2 linked regions of the Homo sapiens genome follow. The protein of the gene in region 2 interacts with the protein of the main gene of each other region in a pairwise test. Each region holds a gene or a part of one and is shown on either strand. Other genes may lie near its edges.

Evidence for each region. Proteins that work in one complex are often made in the same cells at the same time.
Region 1: the proteins of ASPA (region 2) and PIAS1 interact in binary tests that used the Homo sapiens proteins (3 or more experiments, as listed by UniProt).

The regions. Positions count from the first base shown.
Region 1 is NC_000015.10:68,052,175-68,055,922, forward strand, and holds the start of PIAS1 (E3 SUMO-protein ligase PIAS1), read left to right. Parts: upstream 1-2,140; 5' UTR 2,141-2,152; coding exon 2,153-2,176; exon of another isoform or gene 2,177-3,051; coding exon of another isoform or gene 3,052-3,057; exon of another isoform or gene 3,058-3,061; coding exon of another isoform or gene 3,062-3,064; exon of another isoform or gene 3,065-3,709; coding exon of another isoform or gene 3,710-3,739; intron 3,740-3,748. UniProt on the Homo sapiens protein: Functions as an E3-type small ubiquitin-like modifier (SUMO) ligase, stabilizing the interaction between UBE2I and the substrate, and as a SUMO-tethering factor. Catalyzes sumoylation of various proteins, such as CEBPB, MRE11, MTA1, PTK2 and PML.
Region 2 is NC_000017.11:3,473,743-3,477,490, forward strand, and holds the start of ASPA (aspartoacylase), read left to right. Parts: upstream 1-2,254; 5' UTR 2,255-2,417; coding exon 2,418-2,653; intron 2,654-3,748.

The sequences.
Region 1 (3,748 bases), on a different chromosome or scaffold from region 2:
AGAAGTTTCAATCTTTAACAGGCATGATAATGAAATTTCCTGTTTTAATCCTTAAAATAGAATACCTGAAGTAACCCAATGTTAACCAATCAGTTTTCTTTCTACTGTTCTGTCTCCACGTCTCCACCTTAAAGAAAAGTGACTTTGATATAACCAATCTGCTTTTTGTTGTTTCTGCCTTCTTCAGTCTATTTTCTGTCTCTAAAGTTAACATCCTCTGCTTGATTCATTGCAACATTTATTCTATTTTGTGGAATGAAGTTTTGTCCAATTCTAGGAGTGCAATAATGCCAATGAGATCTTGAATCTCAATTTGTTTTACTTTTGTTTCTTGACAATGGAGAGGTTTAGGCTAGAGAGCATTTTCAAAGTCATGAGCATATAGACTTCAAGTCAACCAGTTAGATGAGATCACCTGGTGATAAAATAGAGAAGAATGCAAGGACCGAGCCCTGGAGCAGTCCAACATTTAAAGATTGAGCCAAAGAGGAGAAACCAGCATATCAAAAAGGAGGCCCAGTGAGGGAACAGGACTATCTGTGACGTGTAGGTAAGTTCAGGGGGAAAAGTGTTTCAAATCAAAGGAACCATGTCAATTATTCGCGATTCTACAGAGAGGTCAATTGAGATATGGATAGAGAATTGGCAATTGCCTTTGGAAACAAGATCATTAGTAATCTTGATAAGTGATACAGATGATGGAAGCCAAAGCTCGATCAGGGTAGACTGAGAAGTGAATGTGAAGTGAGAGGTAGGAACAAGCACTATTGGAGAGATCTTGAAAAACCTTTCTAAGAATTTATGAAGATAGCAGAAAAATAGGGCAGTTCCTAGAGGCGATTTTGGAGTCAAAGGAAGTTTATTTTAGATGGGAGAAATTTCAATATATTTATATGCTGATAGGAGCAATTCAATTGAGAGGGAAAAAACTAACGATGCTGGAGGGTAGGTAATTGTAAGAGTAAAATCCTTAGGAATGTGCGTGAAAAAAATCCGGTCACTGGTAAAGGGACTGGCCTTCCTAGGCGCAGGGACACTTCATTCATAGCAACCCAAATGTTACTATGCAGATAAGGGTGGTTTTGATGGTGAGAAGATAAGGGAGTTTATTTCTGATATCTTTCATTTTTTCCATGAGTTATGAGGCAAAGTTGATTAGTAAAAGTGGGGGTTGGGGAGGAGGTATATAGAAGGCTTTCAGTAGAGACGAAAAGGAATGAAATAATCCTTCCATCAAGTCTACTTAAATGTCAATTTAGTGGATAAAACCCTCCCAGAATTAAGTACATCTCCCAAACCCTTTCTCTCTCTCAATGACCTTTTGCTCCTTTCTGGTACTCACTAACATTTGCAATTGTATCTTTGTTCGTTCACTTCTCTGATTCCCCATTAGAGAACTACAGAAGGGCACGGACTTTGATTTCAAAATGTATATTTAGCCGTTAGCACAAGGCAAGCAGATGGTCACTAAATAAATACTTTTTTAAACAAAAATGTTAATGAACACCTTCAAAATTTTGTCTTACGCCACCTCGTTAAAATACTTGTTTGTGCAAGTCACTTTTCCTCTCTGAGCTTTCATTTCTGAATCTATACCATGGGAATTATCTCTTCCTTGCCTACCTCCCCTCGTTATCAAGAGGATCTGAGCCAATAATGATAGAAATGCTTCATTAAGGGCCCCTTAAATGTAATGGATTTCTATTTTTAGCCCACTGGTAGCCTCGCAGGTAGCAGGTGCTGAAAAAGCCTTGCTTATTGGGGGTTGGGGGACAGCATTGTTTCTGTGACCGTAGGCGTCGAAGCTATGCAGAAGCGTTCCGCGGACCGCAGAGAGATGGGGCTCAGGCCAGCATCCCTCTCGCTCCGGCCCTTCCCGGGAGGAGCTGGCCGAGCTAGGATGGGGGGCAGGGAGACCGAGGGGGCAGTAACTGTCAAACCTCGCCGCTTGGCGCCATTATTTAAATGGAACGTGCCTGTCTCGCAGCTGTACGTGCCCGGGGCGGGGCTTCGAGCGCCCTGAGCGGGGCGGAGGCTAGAGGCGGGCTGGGAAGGTGGAGGGGCGGGCCGGGGCGGGGCCAGGCCGGCTAGAGGGGCGGGTCTAGCGGCGGCCCCCGGCGAAGTTCACTGCGCTTGCGCTGACAGACGCAAGATGGCGGACAGTGCGGAACTAAAGGTAAAGCGCAGCTCGAATTCACTTCTAATATTCGGCCGCGGAGACGGCGCCGCTGCTGCCAGGGGGGATGGGTCCGACCCTGGGGGGCCTCTCGGGCCTGACTCCACCCGGGCCTGGAGTTGTAGGGAGAGAGGCGCGCCCGGTCTCAGCAGAGGGGGCCCGCCTGCGGCGGGCCGCGGGCCCCGGGTGCCTCGGGGGCGCTGACGGGTCGTCCCCGGCGTGTTATTGTTGTGGGCGCCTCTGGCGGGGGTGGCGGGGGAAGAGATAGGGAGTCCGGAGGTAGGGGCTGCAGCTGTCTCATGGGCTCGGCTTTTTCACCTTCCAGTTAGCCTCCCTGCCCCCCATGGGGAGCTGGGGCTGGGGGCAGGGTGCTCTCGTAGGGGGGATTGGGAAAGCTCCCCGTGGCCGCTTCCTCTTCCTCCTTTGCAGTCCCGGGCTCCTGTCAGGCGCTCTTCTCAGACCCCCGGGAACTTGGCTTCGGCCGCCCCGCCCCTCCGTGGATCCCAGTAGCCCCCGCCCCGGACTCGGCTTTCCCCGGCTGCTCGCTTGTCAGGAAGCGCCTGGGGTGCCCCGCTTGTGGGAAGCGCGATCCCGGGGCGATAGGGTGGGGATCTGGGGGAGAAGCTCTGGTAAAGTTTAGCGAGCCCCGGGCCGGCGTTGGGGTTCGGCTGAGAGGTAGTGAGCGGGACGTTACTCTTTCTCTCTGATTCCGGGCAGCCGAGGGGAGAAACCCCCTCGAAGAGTGTGTCTTTGGAAGCAGTGTTGGGAGGGGGGGATGCAGCTACCTCTCTCCCTTCTTTTGCCTTAGCTGGTGTGGAGGGTGAGAGGAGCCTTTGGGGGTCTCTGCACACACCATGATGGCGATGCTGTAGCTGATGGAGGTGAATGGTTCGTGTTTATATCCCCCCATTGCCTTTTGTTTGTAGGGACATCTTGCTGGCCATGTTGATTTGAACGAAATTCTCCCCTCATGCTACTCCAACCCCCGATAAATAGAACGTTCCTCTTAACAGTACCAATTACTCACGCCTCACGAAATTAGATGAAAGGGTGCCCCCTTTTCCCCGCTTTTCTCCCACCCCAATCTTTACCTGATGATGGCTTCTTTACCGTAGCAGATATACCACTACACAAGCAGTTGGGGGAGGGGGTGGTGGAACCCTTATGACTGGATTGTGACAAATGGGGCTCCGCTTGAATAATTTTGGTTTAGTAGCAGGCAGTTCTTAACTAACGCGTATTATTTCGAGGCTCTGAACGCGATCTTCTCTGTGGCTTCCTGTGTGTGTGAACCCAGCAGCTGGTTATGTCTCGACCCAGAGAACTGACATCTCTGTCAGAGAGGAGATGGGGATATACAATTGTAAATCTTTGGGGAGAGTCTTCTTTTTATAATAAATAAAAATTATTTAATTTTTTCCCCGTTATAATGAAACGACAACTTCTAGAACAACCAAATGCCAGATTTGATTCTGTAGAGTTTTTCCTGTGGAATATCCTCACCGAAAGAGCTTTTCTCCTAATAACTTCACAATGTTTACACTCCAAGATTCGTATGTTAAGGTATTGGCT
Region 2 (3,748 bases):
CCACCTCGGCCTCCCAAAGTGCTGGGATTACAAGCATGAGACCACACCTGGCATCCTTTTGTTTTAAACTACATTATTTTATTAATACATCAGGCAACTCTATCCCACAAAACATTTGTAATGCTGGAAGTTATGCTTACTCTTTTAAGTACTTCAGAATATTATATATTCAACTTAATAATGAGATAGTGACAATTCGAAAGGGTTTCACTTCGTATACTATCAGTTCGCTGAGAACTAATAAAAAAGTGTGGTTTTTTGGGTCATCCCAAAAATCAAGTACACTTTGGGAAACAGGGAGTTAAAAATCTTTCGGAAGTTAACTTGGTATAAGAGTATGAAAAGCCTCTGTTGCTCTACTTCTGAGGAAATGCTCTCCTTTTTCCTAATAAAGCTTTCCACAGAAGACAAACTCTGTACACAAAAAACAAGGTAAGTATGGGAAATAATTGCTGCAATTCATTAACTCTCAAAAAAGTTATTCATTTTGACATGTAAGAGAAACTTTATTTATGAATGTGAAATGTGCTTCAAAGTGCTGATCTGTTAAAATTCCATAAAACAAGCTTCAAAATGCAAGTCATTTGTGCCAGCTACGAGTAAATAACTGAAGCAGCATTTCCAGAGAGACTAGGGCAAAGGACAGAACAAACTACAAATCAGCAGAAAAGAAACCAAGCATAGTAGAGTGTTAATAATTCACCATGGTTACTGCTCTTAAAACCAAAGCAACTAAACAACTGTCATCTGTTTACTTTTACGTGTGTTTTCATCATCTCTACACCGTCTGAAGTGTTCAGTGTACATGGATGTGGACAGACAGTCAAAGCCTACAGGAGCTTTTTTTTTCTATTAGAACAGTCATTTTAATGCATAGATTTGATGTGGTTATTTTGCTTTCTCTATCTCTGCATTATAAGCTCTTAAAGGAAGAACATTCAGTGGGTTTATTAAATATTAGGAAGCATTCATATTTTATTTTTCCACCATGTATTTGGTTTGTATGCATGTTTGTTTCCTGAGCACACTGTAATGGCTGTTTATGTGAATTCTGAAAGAGCAAAACTAGAACTGTGAAGAAGACCAAAAATAACAGAGAGGCACCCTATTGTCCTGTGAAAAACACTAGACTTGGGATGAGAAACATGGGTCTCAGGCCTAGGTTCTCCTACATCCCTGCAGAACCTTAACTGAGTTACTTAACCTCTCTTTCGTTTACCCCTGCAGTGGGGATGTCAACACCTAACCCACCCTATCGTATAAAATTAATGTATGAATAAACTGAGTGAAAGGACATTATAAATTAAACTCTGCAATTGTAATAAATTACTCTTATTGTACCCTCTATCAAACAACCTGGCGTTACTAGTACATGGTATTCCCAGTACTTGAACATATGTGACTTTCTGGGTGACTGAGCATGAAATCAAATCAGATTTGGCTCAGAGTCATTTCTCCAAAGGGATGTAATCATCTTAGTATTCTGGAAAATTTCCCCTAATAAGACCCCTTTTTGAGTAACACAGTCCAGTGGAGAGTCCCCGCTGACAGTGAATAAGGCTGTGTCTATGTAAGTTCACATGATGTGGTTAGCACATGCAGTGTGTCCCAAGACATTTTCAGGCATCACAAAAACTTGAAAAGTACTAACAGTTGTCTTTCCTTTGGTATTTAGGCAAAAAATGAGGAAGATTCATAAGTAAGTTAACACAGAATTACCAAAAACCTCATGAGAAAGAAATGAAGGGATGTTTCAGGGTAGCTTTTCGAGTCCCAAGTGATCATTGATTTGGCCCTTCTGTTTCTGATTGTGAAAAAGCATTCTGAAAGAATGGGCGCCGGTTCAAGAGGAGGTCTCTGAGGGTCAGCCTTTGGCTGTTTATAGAGGTGAGATTCAAATGCCCTCAGATCATGAAAAGTGCTTGAACTCATTTCAGAGAAGAAATGTTTTGAAATGCCCGTGGAAATACTGAGTGGGCCACTTTTTTATTTTGTGAAATTAGAAACGTATAAACTATTTTTATTATTACAGATAATTGTGAAAGCCTCACTGGATGACATCCTAGCTGAGGAAAAGAATGGAATTTTTGTATTAGTATGAAATGCTAATTTATTACTGTATTTAGATCTACTGACCATCTGAGGGAGTTAGAAGTTAAAGTAAACAGCTGTATCTCTAGTTGATCTTTGCATATTTTAATCCAAATATGGCAAAGGGCAGGGCTAAAGAAGGGAGTGTCCATAAACGGGGCTCAGAACTTGTAACAGAAAATTAAAATATACTCCACTCAAGGGAATTCTGTACTTTGCCCTTTGGGTAAAGTCTCATTTACATTTCTAAACCTTTCTTAAGAAAATCGAATTTCCTTTGATCTCTCTTCTGAATTGCAGAAATCAGATAAAAACTACTTGGTGAAATGACTTCTTGTCACATTGCTGAAGAACATATACAAAAGGTTGCTATCTTTGGAGGAACCCATGGGAATGAGCTAACCGGAGTATTTCTGGTTAAGCATTGGCTAGAGAATGGCGCTGAGATTCAGAGAACAGGGCTGGAGGTAAAACCATTTATTACTAACCCCAGAGCAGTGAAGAAGTGTACCAGATATATTGACTGTGACCTGAATCGCATTTTTGACCTTGAAAATCTTGGGTAAGACTATGCTTTGTATTGTATATGTATGTATGTTGTGTGAAAAGTGGTAGGTGTGTGAAAGAGAACACATATATGTATATGCAGATGATAATTCATGTCCGTACATGCAGTCGTATGTTGAATAAGATCACTTTCACTTTTAATTATACTGCATTGTGAATTGCACAATTATCTAAACTGGGCATTCACATGCTCTTTTATAAACCTTCTTAAGCACCAGATTATTAAGTTTTCTTTTCAAATGTATACAGACTGAGACAATAAATAGAAAAGGGTTTTGTTTTAAAATCATACCTTTAAAGAAACAGATTTAATACTCCTTTGCATTGAGTTAGTGTTTGGCCACTATGCTTGCATATAAAATTGTTAGCTTTTTAGGAAATTCACTACGTTTTCAAGCAACTATGCTTACGGTAATGCATAAAGTTCTAGTTCAAAAAATGTAATGTTTCAAGTAATATTTGTTGAATGAAAGCGTGATTAAATATCTTTTGTCAGAAGACATCAGACACTTTGGGAGGCCGAGGCAGGCGGATCACGAGGTCAGGAGATCGAGACCATCCTGGCTAATGCAGTGAAACCCCATCTCTACTAAAAATACAAAAAATTAGCCGGGCGTAGTGGCGGGTGCCTGTAGTCCCAGCTACTTGGGAGGCTGAGGCAGGAGAATGGCGTGAACCCGGGAGGCGGAGCTTGCAGTGAGCCAAGATTGTGCCACTGCACTCCAGCCTGGGAGACAGAGCAAGACTCCGTCTCAAAAAAATAAATAAATAAATAAAAATAAAGACATCAGACCTCCCTGTGATCCGAAGTAGCAGACGTACTTAACTTCCATGGTGGATTGTTGTAGATGGGATACCAGAGATGAGAACTAAAGACACCATCTGAATTTTCAGAGCTTATATTTTGCTGATTTGTAATATATTGCATACAACGTAAGCAGTCATAACATGCTAGGTTAGGTCCTTATTAATTATTTTTGCCTTCGTTTACATCATAATAGCTACCACTGTGGATATAATATGACTCCACATATTTGCTTTTTACCACTTCTTTCTTTCTTTCTCTTTTTGAGATGGAGTTTCGCTCTTG